2 separate regions of the Homo sapiens genome follow, and region 2 is linked to region 1. The links come from fine-mapping of genetic effects on gene expression. A gene starts in region 1. The other region holds a variant in brackets. All regions are shown on one strand. Distances are from middle to middle.

Region 1 (8,900 bases):
CTGCTGGGGCTGGGGGAGAGGACTTTAATTCCCTGGCATTACACTCTGGCCCCATTTGCAGAGAGTGGATTCCGGCAGCCAGGGAAAGCTTTCACTTTCAGGCAAAGAATTTACAAATGTTGTCAGATGGAAGCTGGGCCTGCATGCACACAAATGTGAAGTGCCAAAGGATACAAGTAGTGGTATCAATAGCATCAGTGACATCTTCCCTACCTAAAATCTCAATTATCCACTGTCAAGAGAATAAAGAAGCAACATCCTGTAGTGGTTAAGAGCATGGACCCTAAAGTTAAAATTCTGCCACTTCCTGGCTGTGACCGTGTGCAAGCAACCTGCCAATAATCACTCTGGTCCTTGGAGTTCTCATCTATAAACAGCCCTATCCTCATGTCCCAATCACCTCCTAAAAGCCTCCTCCGAATACCATCATACTTGGGATTAGGTTTCAACTATAAATTTTGGGGGGAAACAAACATTTAGTCCATTGCAAGAACTATATGCCTTGATGTGTCATGATGTAAGGTAAGTTCTCGTCTGCTGTTCCTGTGGAATACCTCCTACTGGGTGTCATGGTGGCTGAGGTGGTCTGTTGTGAAGCAAAAAGGAGAAAAGGTGTCTGTCTTTTGGTTGCACTGTGTTAAAGGAATCTTACAGTAGTCTTGCTCATACTGCAATGGGTTAAAGGGGTTAAACACTCCCTTCAGCATTTACTCCTAGTCCTCTCTTGCACTAGAACTTAGATATGCATCCTGAGTGACCGAAACACTTTTGTGAGGGAGGACCAGACATTGTGAGGTCATTTTATGCCTACAGTTGGAGAGAGAAGAAAATAAAGGGGAAGCAGAGATATCAGGGTAATTCTTGGTAGCATTCACTATATACCAAATCTACTGGCTCCTTGATCTTGGATGCCCAGATTCCAGAACTGTAAGATACACATTTCTGTTGTTTATAAGCTACCCAGGCTATGGTTTTTCATTACAGCAGACCAAACAAACTAAGACAATATAAAGTATTGTTTAAAAATGAACAATGGGCCAGGCGCAGTGGCTCACGCCTGTAATCCCAGCATTTTGGGAGGTTGAGGTGGGGGATCAGTCAGGAGTTCGAGACCAGCCTGGCCAACACAGTGAAACCCCATCTCTACTAAACATACAAAAATTACCAGGCGTGGTGGCAGGCGCCTGTAATCCCAGCTACTTGGGAGGCTGAGGCAGGAGAATTGCTTGAACCTGGGAGGCGGAGGTTGCAGTGAGCCTAGACTGCCTCCATTGTACTCCAGCCTGGGCGACAAAAGCGAAACTCCATCTCAAAAAAAAACAAAAACCAAAAACAAAAATGAACAATGAAAAGAAAGGCTTAATGTTTGTTGGTTGAATGAGTAAATATTGCTTAGAACTTTAAAACACTTTTCAATGAAAACCACGCTAGAAGTAAGGATTATACCTTCACACAAGTTCATAAATCTATGATCTATACCATAGCTGAATAATTTGTTCACTTATTGTTTCATTTTTTTTCTATTATTCATTCAGAAGGCATTTTCTGAGTACACATTATGTGAAGTGTATGGACCATAACTCATACAGGCAAAAAAAGAACAAATGGTCTTGGCTCTGGAGAAGTTTAGAATATGGAGGAGAAACAAGTAAATTAAGAATTATGATACAGGATAAGTTTTTATTACAAGTATAGGGAGTGAAGTGTTGCATGGCAGGGATTAGTGTTATATTAGGAAAGGAATGCCAAGAAGGTGAATTTGGGCTGATTCTTTTCTTTTCTTTTTTTTTTTGAGACAGTGTCTCACTTCCATAGCTCAGACTTGGGCTAATTCTTAAAGAAAAATACAATAGAGGGGAGGAAGATATGATAGGAGATGAGGATAGTCAGGCTCCATCTTTTTTTTTTTTTTTTTTTTTTTTTTTTTTTGGGACGGAGTTTCACTCTTGTTGCCCAGGCTGGAGTGCAATGGCACGAACTCAGCTGACTGCAACCTCCGCCTCCTGGGTTCAAGCAATTCTCCTGCCTCAGCCTCACAAGTAACTGGGATTACAGGCATGCACCACCATGCTTGGCTAATTTTGGTATTTTTAGTAGAGACGAGATTTCACCATGTTGGTCAGGCTGGTCTTGAACTCCTCACCTCAGGTGATCTGCCCTCCTCGGCCTCCCAAAGTGATGGGATTACAGGCGTGAGCCACCACGCCCGGCTCAGGCTCCATCTTTTAAGCAAAGGAGTTTGGATTATGAGGAGCCCTTTAAGCAGGGAAGTGATGTTTATAAATCTTACAGCTCAGAATTCTAAAGTTTAAAATGAATACAGACTTTGTGAAGACCCATAATTCATTCTGAAAATATAAATGATATTTTGTATTATCTCCTGAACAAATTATCTACCTGACTGCTTTCATCCATTAGCAGAGATAATTGGGAGGTTACTGTCTTTCTTATGTCTTGCCTTGAACACTGAATCTTGATTACTCTAAGTTGGACTTAGTTAATTTATTTACTTACTACTTATTTGAGACAGAGTCTCTGTCACCCAAGCTGGAGTGCAGTGGCACCATCTCGGCTCACTGAAACCTTCGCCTCCCGGATTCAAGAGATTTTCCTGCCTCAGTCACCCTAGTAGCTGGGATTACAGGACTGTGCCACCATGCCCACCTAATTTTTGTATTTTTACTAGAGATTGGGTTTTGCCATGTTGGCCAGGCTGGTCTCGAACTCCTGGCCTCAAGTGATCCACCTGCCTTGGCCTCCCAAAGTGTTGGCATTACAGGCATGAGCCACCATGCCCAGCTTATGTTGTTTTATATATTAGAGACCTGTGAGCTCTTTTTATTTTATGTAAATAACTTAAAAACTTGTTAACATTATTCAAACGACTACAGCACTAGTAGCAGTTTTTTAAAACTATTTTTCTACATATTAAACCCACTTTACTCACATTATTTATAATTATCTGTATTTTTCTAAATTGTAAAATCATTTGAAGAAATCTTGTCCAAATGACTTTGTAATAACTTGTATGTTTGTATTATAAATGCAATTCAAATATCTTTTCTTGTTAAAAATAAGGACTTGCTTTTTCGGGGTATGGAATTTCTTGCAATAGACTGGAAGTAACAATGCCTGCACTTTTACCAACTCAATGTCATCCTGGATAAGTTACATCTCTGGCCTTTGGGGTCCTACTCTATAAAATGAGAAAACTGAAATCGTTGATCCCTATGATTTCTAATTTTCTTTCATTCTAATTATCGGCAGAATTGGAAGCAACTTACATTCTGGTTTCAGGAATACATGAGTTCAAATATTGCTCTACCTAAAGTTCAGAGCATTGTTTAACCTCTTTAAATTTGGAAAACAGGGATATTAAAACATGCCTAACAGTGCTATTGTGTGGATTAAATGATGGCTTCATTTTTTTTCTTGCCTTAGGAGTAGGCTTAAGGTAAGATTTGTTTAGTGATTTGTCTCATGGACATCTCCGTTAAGTAAGTAGAAGTATTTCGTATATGTGGTATCCACAATACTGGCTTGATTTTTTCTTTTAAGTTAAACCTAAGAAGGCCGAAGAAATTTTGGGGGAATCACTATAAAATGAAAATCATTATAAAATGAAAATGGACGCAACTTCTTCCCCACTTCCCAACGTTACTGTTTGCGGAACATACTCAAGAACCATTCCATGCAAAGTTTTACATGATCGGAAGGAAGCAGGTCGTGCTCTTCACTTGCCAATTCCATGGTGCGGAATAAAAACAAAACAAAACAAAATATTTAGTGTCCAGCACTCCACGTGGGCAAGTATTTACAACTAACATTTCAAGTTTTAACATTTCATCACTTTAAATTTAAAAACAAAATCACTGAAGCAAATATCCCCAGATAAAAACCTACCCAATTTGCATTCTTTTATTTTTAATTTGCCTGAGGCCAATAATTACCTTCGTCTAGGAGAAGAATGGGTCAAATATTCACTCTGCCAGGTCCTGGCGTCCCGGAGTACCTTTGCAACAAACGCGTCCTAAACGCTCCAGACCCTCCACATCTCCCTTCCCGCTAGGGGGGCCTGTGGGGCCCGACCATCTGCCAACCCTTTTGTGTCTTCCGGCTCTTATTTCCTCCCCCGCGGAGATCTCACCTGCACGCCCTGCTGCTGGAGGCTCTGCGTGATGTAATCTAGACGGCGACAAACGCTCTTTTTGGCCTCGGCTGCCGCCTCCTTGGTGCTGCTCACTCGCACCACCACCTGCGCCCGGTCAGGGCCCGCAGACACTTCTGAGGTGCCGCTTACTTGCACCTCGCGGGTAGCAGTTTGGGCTTGTGTTGAGGAGAGGGGGTGGCGTAAGCCCGGTAGCGTCTCTCTCCCTGAGGCCAGGTTGTTCTCCCGGCTCCGGTCAGCCCAGGGAACCAGTTCCACGAACACTCGGGTCGGAGGGGTCTTTTGCAGAGACATAGCGATGGCAGCTGGGTTTCCATAGTAACTACCGGCCGACGGCGGCCGAAGGGGCCAATGCGCACCAGGGCTTGCCTGTGCACGGCGCAAAGTATGCCGGGATGGGTGTGGAGGCCGCGGAACTTCTGGCGGGCGCAAGCTATATGCCTTGTTGATCTTGCCGCATCTTTTTTACTAGATGTCGGCTGAGTGAGTAGCTACAGTTTTTAACATGTTTAACTTACGGCCTTCAAAAATTGTTAGCGGACTTTCTCTGTTGCCTCCTCAGTGAGCTCTGCCCTTTCTCGCAACTCCTTGTCGTCCCACCGCGCCTCTGCACCTCAGAGGAAGGAGAAGAGTAGCGAGGCCGAGCGGGTTTTTAGATTTCTCTGTGATTACCCCCAGCCTTGTCTTTTCTGACTTTACCGTCCCCGCTTGGGGTACTGCTTTTTGAGGCTCCCTCGGCCACATTTTTGTGGTTCGTGAGAGGTTTCAGTTGAGGTGAACTTTTTGCCCCTGTGATCTTGGACAGTTTATGATTCTTCATATCTCAGTATCATCTTCTCTAAAGCAGGGTTGATAATATTTTTTATATTAGTAATATATAATATATTCTAATATATATAATATATTCTAATATATAATATATTCTAATATATATAATATATTAATATTATCAAAGCAATGTTGATAATATTTTTCACATTTGCTATGTGCTTATAAGGCGCCCATTGTATGTAGAGTGCGTTGCATATGGAAAGCAGAGTGAACATAATGGATGTTTGTAATGATAGCTATGGCTTTGGCATCATTTTTGTGTCTCCCCATTTTTTTCTAAAATCCCTGGAATGGTTCGGGCCTTGAATTCCGACAGAAGAGATTTAGGTGGTAGCAAAGCACGTCCAACATGGAGTTTGCTGGGCCTGCACAACTTGGAGCTTCTCTGTACCCTTTTCTTCAGAGAACTTTTAGAACACAACCCTCAACTTCCCGTCTTCTGGATTCTCTTCCTAGCACTAAGCAATGATCTTTGTAAAAATAGCCCCACTGACTTATACGTCTTTACTATCTGAATTTTATCAAGAGAATCGAGGGGGGAAAAAAGAATTTTGAATAACTAGTTCTAGAAGGACAAGAACTGTTCTTTTAAAAGGACCCTGAAAAGCTGACAGTCCTCTTGTAGTTTCTTCACCATCGTTTTTTCTGTTCTTTTCGATTAGTATAATTCAACTAAATCAATGGTACCCCCCTCCTTTAATTAGGCTCATCACTAGATTAACATAATTTTGTGTATATCCATCTTGTTTATTGTTAGCTGAAAACAATTTTAATTTAAAAACTAACGTTAAGAACTTTCCGTCATAGTCTTTTATTATTTAAGACACCCAAAATAATGTTTCTTAAACTTGGTGAAAAATTCTTTTTCCCTTACGATAAATGCGGAAGAATATAGCCTCCAAAATAAATTATTGAATGAGTGAATGTCATAAACAAAAAGCAACAGGAGTTAAAGTGTAAGTATTTAGTATACGATAAAAGATTTCATATCAGTGGAAAATGATTACATGGTACAGGGATAATTGTAAGCTATATATATAATATACTATAGCTATATAGCTATAGTATATTTTATATATATATATATTTTTTTTTTTTTGAGGCGGAGTCTCGCTCTGTCATTCTGGCTGGAGTGCAGTGGTGCGATCTGGGCTCACTGCAAGCTCCGCCTCCCGGGTTCACGCCATTCTCCTGCCTCAGCTCCCGAGTAGCTGGGACTACATGTGCCCGCCACCACGCCCGGCTAATTTTTTTGTATTTTTAGTAGAGATGGGGTTTCACCGTGTTAGCCAGGATGGTCTCGATCTCCTGACCTCGTGATCCGTCCACCTCGGCCTCCCGAAGTGCTGGGATTACAGGCATGAGCCACGGTGCCTGGCCCATTGTAAGCTATATTTTTAAAGAATTTGTATCTTATATCATACATTGAAAATAATTCAGATGAGACCAAAAAGAAAAATAATTGGAAGAACCTATATGTAAATATAAATATTCTGGGGGATGGGAAGGCTGGCCTTAATCATAATTTCATGTGCAGCAACCATGAAGGAAAAGTTTGAAAAATTGGACTATACTAAAAAAAATCAGTTATATAAAGCAAAATAAAAACAAAGGTGGGGGGGCAAATAAATGGGGAAAAATGTTTGTTAATGTTTATTATGTATAAAGGGCTAAGAGTCTTAATGCTTAGAGAACTGTTGCTAGAAGAAACAAACGTGTCAAAAGAAAAATAATGAACACTGAGGCAAACTGTATTAGATTGCTATTGCCATAACAAAAGTCTTTCGGCTTCAAAGACTTTGGAGCTTAAACAGCACAAATTTATTTTCTCACAGTTCTGGGGCCTAGAAGTCCAAGATTAAGGTGTCAGCAGTTTTGGTTTCCCCCAAGGCCTTTCTGGTTGGCTTGCAGACGGCTACTTTCTTGCAGCATCCTCACATAGCCTTGCCTCTGTGCACATTACCCCGATGTCTCTTCATAGAGCCTCACCTTTGTGACTTCCATTTAACCTTAATTACCTTCTTAAAAGCCCTGTTCCAAACACAGTCACATTGAAGAGCACTCCAACATACGAATTTTGGGGAACACAAGTCCACAATACAGACCAAGAAAGCAGAAATGTTAGTAGTCTATAGGATGAAAAAAAAAATAGTTTATCCTCACCAGTAGTTTAAGAAATGCAAATTTAACTACAGTGTAATGTCTGTTTTTGAACTATCATTTTGGCAAATAACAAAGCCCGTGAGAATGGAGAAGGAATAGATAATACTGGATTTTGAAAGAAGAATGAATTAATTCTTTGTGACAGAACTATAAATTAATAGTATATGAAAGAGAAGGATAAGCCTAAACTGACTTATGAAGTTTTCAGCTGGAATGATTGGGAGAATGAATGAAGAGCATAGAGCTATTTGTTCAGCTCATAGTAGCCCAGTTCTCTCTCAGAGTCAAGGCTGAGCCCCTAGCAACTGTTTTGAATAAGGTGACTCTACCAAGTTGATTGTACTAAGAATAGGTACCTAATTCCAGTTGAACCCGTTGGAATTTTTCACATGAGAATCTATATTTACACCAAATTTTAAAAATTTAGTCTCTTAGGTGACAGGGCTGTGACATACACTCATATATATATTTATGTAAAACCTTGGGAGATATAGATTGGCCATTTTTCTATTAGAGAAATAGAAAAAGTGTAGAGATGGGGTGGGGAGAAAGAGAGAGAAAGAGAAAATGATACTTTCCAAGAGGATCAGAGGTGAGATGGAAAAATAGTCCAGATGCAATTCCAGTCTCTTTTTTAAGAATTTTTTCTTAGGCCTGGTTTCATTCCTGCCCTGGAGTTCTCTAAAATATTCCTGTATCCTTATAAAAATTCCCCTCCCCCTTTTTTTTGCATAAGTAGCTTGACCAAGTTTTATGTTATCTTAAAACCAAGACTGATAAGAATAAATGAGAAGGAGAATTTAAAGCTGACTTTTATACCTGTCAGCCTGAAGGAATTTATAGAACTTCACACAAAGTGGATCTGTAGGTGCACTGCTCAAAGCTTCACCTTTTGGGGAAATTTTCCTTCTCCACTGTTATTCAGAGATTTTACAAGTGACGTTGTTCCACAGCTGCTTCTCATTTTTTACTGGCACCTGCATACCAAGCCAGCCTATCCATAATCTTGCCATAAAAGCTCAGGTTTTTTTCCTCCTCCTTCAGTTGGCCATAGAGTAATCCCTACATAGCCATTGGTGTGAGGTGAGGGAGGTGTTTTGGTGCAACCTTGGTGGGTGGCATGGGCGTCTGAGCTGCTTGCTCATGCAGCTTGCTTATACCCTCTGGTGCTTGTGTCTCAGATGTGCCATTATCTTTTTATCTGTTTCTGGTGGGGTATCTGACTTTGAGTTGAAGTCTCTGACAGTACCCAGCTTATGATGGGCAATTCCAAACATCTCAAAAATTAAAATCCCAAGTGTCAGAAGAGAATGGAATAATACATTCTAAATCCTGAGGGGGAAAAAAACCTAACCTAGAAGTGTGTATTAAGGTCCTTGCCTTGTTCAAAAAGATGTCAGATGTACTAAAATCACTTTAGACTTTGTTACACTTTATAATTAAATACTTATGGAAAATATATTGGTAAATGAAGAAGCCAAAAGGAACAGAAAAAAGGCTCAAAGGGGTAAGGGAAAGATTAAGATAGTACAATGTTGTGGAACCAAAGTTTGTATAATTGTCAAAAAGAGGTGATCCATAATGTCATGGTACAGGTCAAAAACTTGAAGATGAAGACATGCCTATTGCATGTAATATTTAGCAGATTTTTAGTGACCATTCAAAGAAATGTTTTACTGTTAACCAGATAGCAAAGGGTTAAGGAAAAGTGATTGGGAAAAGTAGAAAGAGATAAATA
Region 2 (8,900 bases), 78 kb after region 1:
CAGGTGGAAAGCAGTGCAGCAATTCCTCAAAGAGTTAAAAACAGAACAATTATTTGACTCAGCAATTCATTACTGGGTACATACCCAAAGGAATATAAACTGTTCTGTGATAAAGAACATGCACATGTATGTTCATTGCAGCACTATTCTACAATAAGTGGATAATATTTAAGTGTAAACAATAAAAGTCATAAAAAGATACTTGAAGTTAGAAAAACTACAGTCTGAGGGAACAAATTTGAGGTGAAGTTTCAGCCTTTTAACTTGTGGGGAGGGGGATTATCAAGAAGATGGATCCTTCTTTCTTCCTCAAATCACAGTGTTTAAGGGACAACCTTTTCCATCCATGAACAAGGAGGCAGTTTATGAGTGTGACAGGCTGAAGAGTATACAGTCTCAAAAAATCTCAAACCCTCAGGGACTGAGGGTAATGTACAATTCTAGAGGTCACTGCTCACATGTCTTTTATGTGAATGATGCCCCCATGGAGTTGGGAAACGTGTAGCTGCTGTGCTCTTCCCATATATTCATTTACTTCTAGACCACCTACTTATGTTGTCAATAATAAGCAGCAGCCCTGGGGACACTCTAGATTGCTTCATAATTTAATGTGTTAAATCAGTTTCTCTAAGGGATGATACTTTGATACTTAACCTGCTACCCGGATAAAACAAAGTACTTCTCTGAACCACTTTTCAATTCTTGAAGAAGGTCAGGGTCATTTATTTGATTTCTTACAAAAGGAGACTCCTGGTACCAAGCCACAAGAGGCTCAATAACATAAATTCACATAGTCCTCCTATAAAATTGTTTAAAATGATTGATGTGTGTGGTAGGCCTTAGTGTCTTTTAGGTCCTGGGATAAATACTCTAAATTGAAATTTTTGGTTTTAGTCTGAAGGTTATGTTGCTGACACATCTTTGGGCAAAGCAAGATAAGTGTACTCTCACATTGCTGGGCATGGTGGCTCATGCCTGTAATCCCAGCACTTTGGGAGGCTGAGGTGGGTGGATCACCTAAGGTCAGGAGTTGGAGACAAGCCTGGCCAACATGGTGAAACCCTGTCTCTACTAAAAAGTAAAAACAATTAGCCAGGTATGGTGGCGTGTGCCTGTAATCCCAGCTACTCAGTACGTTGAGGCAGGAGAACTGCTTGAACCTGGGAGGTAGAGGCTGCAGTGAGCCAAGATCGTGCCACTGCACTCCAGCCCGGGTGACAGAGCAAGACTCTGTCTCAAAAAAAAAAAAAAAAAAAAAAGAAAATAAAAAGAAAAAAAACCTCTCGTGTTATATATTTTCAGTTCAAGTTCACAGAGATTTTAATTTTTTTCTTAGAGACTGGATCTTGTTCTGTCATCAAGCCTGGAATGGAGTGGTGTGATCGTGGCCCACTATAACCTTGAACTGCTGGATCCTCCCACCTCAGCCTCTTGAGTAACTAAGACTACAGGTGTGCGTCACCACACCTGGCTGATATTTTTTTAACTTTTAAGTTCAAGGGTACAAGTGAAAGTCTGTTACTTAGGTAAACTTGTGTCATGGGGGATTGTTGTACAGATTTTTTCGTCATCCAGGTATTAAGCCTACTACCCTTTAGTTATTTTTCCAAATCCTCTCCCTCCTCCCACTGTCCACACTCAAGTAGGCCCCAGTATCTCCTCCATGTGCCCATGTGTTCTCCTTATTTAGCTCCCACTTATAAGTGAGACAATGTGATATTTGTTTTTCCATTCTTGTGTTAGTTTGCTAAGGATAATGGCCTCCAGCTCCATCCATGTTCCTGCAAAGAGCATGATCTTGTTATTTTTTATGGCAGCATGGTATTCCATGGTGTATATATACCATATTTTCTTTATCCAGTCTCTCACTGATGGACATTTAGGTTGATTGCACATCTTTGCTATTGTGAATAGTGTTGCAATGAGCATATATGTGCATGTGTCTTTATAATATATATAAATAAATATAATATTTATATTCCTTTGGGTATATACCCATTAATGGGATTGCTGGGTCAAATCGTATTTCTGTCTTTAGGTCTTTGTGGAATTGCCACACTGTCTTCCACAATGGCTGAACTAATTTACACTCCCACTAACAGTATATAAGTGTTCCTTTTTCTCCCAAACCTTGCCAGCTTCTGTTACTTTTTGACTTTTAATTAATAGTCACTATGGCTGATGTGAGATAGTATCTCATTGTGGTTTTGATTTGCATTTCTTTAATGATCAGTAATATTGAGCTTTTTTTCATATGGTTGTTGGCCACAAGTATGTCTTTTTATGAAAAGTGTCTGTTTATGTCCTTTGCTTACTTTTTATGGTGTTGTTTCTTTCTTATACATTTGTTTAAGTTCCTCATAGATGCTGTATATTAGACTTTTCTTGGATGCATGGTTTGCAAAAATTTTCTCCCATTTTGTAGGCTGTCTGTTTACTCTGTGGATAGTTTCTTTTGATGTTCAGAAGCTCTTTAGTTTCATTAAATCCCATGTGTCAATTTTTGTTTTTGTTGCAATTGTTTTGGCATCTTTGACATGAAATCTTTCTCTGTGCCTATATCCTGAATGTTATTGCCTAGGTTATCTTCCAGAGTTTTTATACTTTTGGGTTTTACATTTAAGTCTTTAATTCATCTTGAGTTAATTTTCATATAGGTGTTAGGAAGGGGACCAGTTTCAACCTCTGCCTATGGCTAGCCAGTTTTCCCAACACCATTTATTGAGTAGGGAATCCTTTCCCCATTGCTTGTTTTTGTAAGATTTGTCAAAGATCAGATAATAGTTGGTGTATGGTCTTATTTCTGGGTTCTCTATTCTGTTCCATTTGTCTATGTGTCTGTTTTTGTACCAGTATCGTGCTGCTTTTGTGACTGTAGCCCGGTACAGTAGTTTGAAGTCAGATAGTGTGATGCCTCCAGCTTTGTCCTTTTTGTTGAGGAATGCCTTGGCTATTTGGGCTCTTTTTTGGTTTCATATGAATTTTAAGATCGTTTTCTCTGGTTCTGTGAAGAATGTCGTTGGTAGTTTAATAGGAATAGCATTCAATTTATAAATTGCTTGGGGCGGTATGGCTATTTTAACAATATTGATTCTTCCTATCCATGAGCATGGAATATTTTTCCAATTGTTTATGCCATGTTTGATTTTTTTGAGTAGTGGTTTATAGTTCTCCTCATAGAGATCTTTCACCTCCATAGCTAGTTGTATTCCTAGGTATTTTCTTCTTTTTGTGGCAATTGTGAATGGGAGTTCATTCCTGATTTGGCTCTTGGCTTGACTGTTGTTTGTGTGTAGAAATGCTAGTGATTTTTGTACACTGATTTTGATATCCTGAGACTTTGCTGAAATTGTTTATCAGCAAGAAGCTTTTGGGCTGAAACTATGGGATTTTCTAGTTAATAGGATTATGTTATCTGCAAATAGGAATAGTTTGACTTTCTCTCTTCCTATTCAGATGCCCTTTTTCTCTCTCTCTCTTGCCTGGTTGTGCTGGCTAGGACTTCCAATTCTATATTGAATAGGAGTGGTGAGAGGAGTCATCCTTGTCTTGTGCTTGTTTTCAAGGGGAATGATTCCAGCTTTCCCCAGCTAATTAATTTTTTTTTTCTCAGAGATTAGGTCTAATTATGTTTCCCAGGCTGGTCTCCAACTCCTGGCCTCAAGTGATCCTCCTAACTTGGCCTTCCAAAGTGCTGGGATTACAGGTGTGAGCCACTGTGCCCTGCTCAAATCCATGAA[G/C]TTTTGAGAGTGGAGATGTACGTGACTTTCTTATCAGAAAGCTAAGACCTGTTCCATGTCTGAGTCTCACTGCTCATAATTTCTTTGAGTCATTTGCTGACATGATCCTGCTCACACCCAGAGAAAGCTGGGTGGCACTGTGGAAGGAATCATGGAGTGAGAGCCCAGAAACATAAGGTGTAGACTGTCTGGGCCCTGTGAGCAACTGGTGATAGCCCAGATGCTGGACTTCCCTGCTTTATTTTATCTGTAAAACAATCTTAATAGTATCTACTTGTGTTAACTTCCAATGGCTGATGTAACAAATTACTACACACTTTAAAACACGAATTTATTATCTTATGGTTTTGTAGGTCAGAAATCCAACACAAGTTGCTTGGGGCTAAAATCAAGGTGCCCACCAGGCTGTGTTACTTTCTGGTTGTACTAGGAGAAAATCTGTTTCCTTGTCTTTTCCAGCTTCTAGAGCCTGCTCACATTCACTGATTTGGGGTCTCATTCCTCCATCTTCAAAGCTAGCAATGTAGCTTTGATGATACTTTTGTTGTTATATGTTTTTCTCTGACACTCCCTCTTCTGCTTCCCCCTTTTTTGAATGATCCTTGTGATTACACTGGACCCATTGGATAATCCAAGATAATCTCTCTATTTTAAGGTCAGCTGATTAACAACTTCAATTTCCTCTGCAACCTTAGTTTCCCTTTACCATGTAACCTAACATATTCATAGGTTCTGAGATTAGAATGTGAACATTTTGGGGAGCCATTGTTATGCCTTGAAAGTGGCTATGCCCACTTTAGTTGGTAAAGGAATCAAATATAAAGGTACATCATCATTATGAATTACCATAATGATAGAATATACTATTGGCTGGGTAAAGTATTTTCATGTGCTTCAAGATAACTTAAAAACTCATTGCAATCAACATTTGATATGCCCCGGTTTTTGTTTTAACGTTAGCCATTTGGGGGATATTCAGTAGTATGTCATTATGATTTTAATTTGCACTTTCCTGAAGACTAATGGGAATAAACACCTTTAAATGTGTTTCTTGTCCATTTATGTATCTCATATTGTGAAAGGTATATCTAAACCTTTTATTCATTTGAAAATTGCATTTTGTCTGCATTGTGTTGTATGAGTTTGTGGTGAAGTTGCTATTGTGTCACCTTAACTAAACTGGAACTACTTTTTTCTGGGATGTCCCTCTCTGGTTGTTTTGAGCCTGAAAATTTGTGCAGGATTTAGAATGCAGACATAAAGCAGCAACTATCTTCTTTTTATTCATGGAAAGCTGGAGCAAGGCAGGTGGCACTGTTGCAGCTCACACACACTGTTGCTAATTTGCTGGTCACCCTGTGAGCATGAGGTGGCATCTGAGTTCATAGCTCCTCCAGCCAGACTTCCTCTTTACATTGTGCTGAATCCTGGGCCAGGTACATACTTATCTCCTGTAGTCAGTTGAATTTGTGTCTCCCCAAAAATATATGTTGGGATACTAGCCTTCAGTACCCCGGAATGTAACCTTATTTAGAGATAGAGTCTTTGTAGAGACAAAGGTAATCAAGTTAAAATGAGTCATTAGAGTGGGCCCTAATCCAAATACAGTGGTGTCCTTTTGAGAAGGGACAATGTGAACACAGAGACACACACATTCACAGAGAATGCCATGTGAAGATGAAGGAAGAGATTAGGGTGATGTAGCAGATACCAAGGAATGCCAAAGATTGCCAGCAAACCACCAGAAGCTAAACAAGAAGAATGGAAGAGGTTCTCCCTCACAGCTCTCAGGAGGAACCAACCCTGCTAATGTCTTCATCTGAGATTTCTAGCCTCTAGAACCAAGACAATAAATTTCTATTTTAAGCTATCCAGTTTTTATCGTGTTGCTCTGGCAACTCTAGCAAACTAATACATCTCCCTAATCATTGAAGTTGGAAGCTTGATTGAAGTTGGTGAGAGATTGGTACAGTCTGTCCTTGGAGATTTCAGCCCATCCTTATAGGTGAGTTTCTTCTTGCTTCTCTCACATTGCATTTAATTTCTCTTCCTGACTGCTTTATTAGCAGATCTCAGACTCTAGTATCAGATGTACAGACAACAGTTTCACAGAGACAGTCTCCCATAAATGTATGAGATCAAATCCATATAATGAAATATGTTTATATACATATATATATATATATATATATATATATATATATATATATATATATATACATACACATATGTATGGGACTCTTAGTGGTTCTGTTTCATTAATCAAGCCCTGATTGATACAGAACTCTTTGTATATCTTTAATACTAGTCAGATACATGTTTTGGAAAGATTTACCTCCCAATCTGTGGATCACCTTTTCATTTTCATAATGGTGTTTTTGAATAGTTATAGTTTTTAATTTTGATGAAGTAAAATTTATTAAAGTTTATATATATATATACACACACACACATATTTTGGCCTAGTGTAAACAAATCTTTACTCCACACTCATGAAGATATTCACCCGCCTCCCCCTTTTTTTTTTTAGCATGGTAAGAGGTAGTGGTCAAGATTCTTCTTTTTTTCTTATGGAGATTCAGTTGTTCCAGACCATTTATTAACATTATCTTTCTTTCTTAAATTGCCTTAGTATTTTTGTTGAAAACCAATTGACCATGTATAGGTGGGCTTATGGCTGGACCTCATCTTGTTCCATTGATTTACTTCTCTATTCTTGGCCAAAGATCACATTGTAAAAACCGCTATAGCTTTATAGTAAATCTTGAAATCAGGGAGTGTAAATCCTACAACTTTGTTGTTTTTCAAAATTGTTTTGTCTATTCTAAATTCTTTGAATTTGTATATAAATTGTAAACTGAGTTCAACAGTTAAAATGGATTTTTTTGGGATTTTGGTTAGGATTGAATTGGATATACAGATTAATTTGGGGGAATTATTGATAGTTTAATAATGTTGAATCTTCAAATACATGACCAGAGCATATATATTTAAATTGTCTTCATTTATTTAGATCTTCTTTAAATGTTCTTGAGAAATGGTTTTTAGTTTTCAGTGTTTTCATTACATTTATTATTGTTTTTAGGCTACTGTAAATAGCATTTTAAAATATCATTTTCTTAGGAACGCTTTTACAATGTTGGTGGGAGTGTAAATTGGTTCAACCATTGTGGAAGACAGTGTGGCAATTCCTCAAGGACTCAGGAGCAAAAATACCATTTGATCCAGAAACCCCATTACTGGGTATATACCCAAAGGATTATAAACCATTCTACTATAAAGACACATGCACATGTATGTTTATTGCAGCATTGTTTACAATAGCAAAGACTTGGAACCAACCCAAATACCTATCAATGTTAGACTGGATAAAGAAAATGTGTCATATATACATAATGGAGTACTATGCAGCCATAAAAAAGAATGAGTTCGTGTCCTTTGCAGGGACATGGATGAAGCTGGAAACCATCATCCTCTGCAAATTAACACAGGAACAGAAAACCAAAGACCACATGCTCTCACTCATCAATGGGAGTTGAACAATGAGAACACATGGACACAGGGAGGGGAATATCACACACCAGGGCCTGTCAGGGGGCTGGGGGGAAAGGGGAGGGAGAGCATTAGGACAAACACCTAATGCACGCAGGGCTTGAAACCTAGATGATGGGTTAATAGGTGCAGCAAATCACCATGGAACATGTATACCTATGTAACAAACGTGCATGCTCAGCATGTGTATCCCAGAACTTAAAGTAAAAAAAATATATATATATATGTATATAATAAAATATCATTTTCTAATTATTTGTTGCTAGTATGTAGAAATACAATCTATCTGTTCTTGGACTTTTTTTGATTGGTAAGCTATTAATTGTTGCCTCAATTTCAGAGCCTGTTATTGGTCTATTCAGAGATTCAACTTCTTCCTGGTTTAGTCTTTGGAGAGTGTATGTGTCGAGGAATTTATCCAGTTGTTCTAGATTTTCTAGTTTATTTGTGTAGAGGTGTTTACAGTATTCTCTGATGGTAGTTTGTATTTCTGTGAGATCAGTGGTGATATCCCCTTTGTCATTTTTTATTGCATCTATTTGATTCTTCTCTCTTTTCTTCTTTAGTAGTCTTGCTAGCGGTCTATCAATTTTGTTGATCTTTTCAAAATACCAGCTCCTGGATTCATTGATTTTTTGAAGAGTTTTTTGTGTCTCTATTTCCTTCAGTTCTGCTCTGATCTTAGTTATTTCTTGCCTTCTGCTAGCTTTTGAATGTGTTTGCTCTTGCTTTTCTAGTTCTTTTAATTGTGATGTTAGGGTGTCAATTCTGGATCTTTTCTGCTTTCTCTTGTGGGCATTTAGTGCTATAAATTTCCCTCTACACACTGCTTTGAATGTGTCCCAGAGATTCTGGTATGTTGTGTCTTTGTTCTCGTTGGTTTCAAAGAACATCTTTATTTCTGCCTTCATTTCGTTATGTACCCAGTAGTCATTCAGGAGCAGGTTGTTCAGTTTCCATGTAGTTGAGTGGTTTTGAGTGAGTTTCTTAATCCTGAGTTCTAGTTTGATTGCACTGTGGTCTGAGACACAGTTTGTTATAATTTCTGTTCTTTTACATTTGCTGAGGAGTGCTTTACTTCCAACCATGTGGTCAATTTTGGAATAGGTGTGGTGTGGTGCTGAAAAGAATGTATATTCTGTTGATTTGGGGTGGAGAGTTCTGTGGATGTCTATTAGGTCTGCTTGGTGCAGAGCTGAGTTCAATTCCTGGATATTCTTGTTAACTTTCTGTCTCATGATCTGTCTAATGTTGACAGTGGGGTGTTAAAGTCTCCCATTATTATTGTGTGAGAGTCTAAGTCACTTTGTGGGTCACTCAGGACTTGCTTTATGAATCTGGGTGCTCGTGTATTGGGTGCATATATATTTAGGATAGTTAGTTCTTGTTGAATTGATCCCTTTACCATTATGTAATGGCCTTCTTTGTCTCTTTGGATCTTTGTTGGTTTAAAGTCTGTTTTATCAGAGAGTAGGATGGCAACCCCTGCCTTTTTTTGTTTTCCATTTGTTTGGTAGATCTTCCTCCATCCTTTTATTTTGAGCCTATGTGTGTCTCTGCATGTGAGATGGGTTTCCTGAATACAGCACACTGACGGGTCTTGACTCT

Evidence for each region. PIP is the estimated chance that this variant, and not a neighbour inherited with it, causes the effect.
Region 2: its variant is fine-mapped to the expression of IRAK1BP1 in blood mononuclear cells (TOPMed, PIP above 0.99). The same link has a PIP of 0.9 or more in cerebellum, minor salivary gland, unexposed skin and whole blood.

Annotation. Positions count from the first base shown.
Region 1 is chr6:78,863,139-78,872,038 of GRCh38, reverse strand. IRAK1BP1 (interleukin 1 receptor associated kinase 1 binding protein 1) reads right to left here and starts at 4,488. Exons shown (of 4, transcript NM_001010844.4): 1 at 4,148-4,488. The coding sequence starts at 4,462. It overlaps LOC107986613 (a long non-coding RNA gene), which reads left to right and starts at 4,549. Exons shown (of 2, transcript XR_001744210.2): 1 at 4,549-4,651. RefSeq lists enhancers at 3,701-4,301, 4,134-4,453, 4,484-4,593.
Region 2 is chr6:78,785,210-78,794,109 of GRCh38, reverse strand. No RefSeq gene overlaps it. Among named protein-coding and RNA genes, the nearest start is that of IRAK1BP1, 78 kb to the left of the region's middle. The variant G/C (reference allele first, on the strand shown) is at 3,741.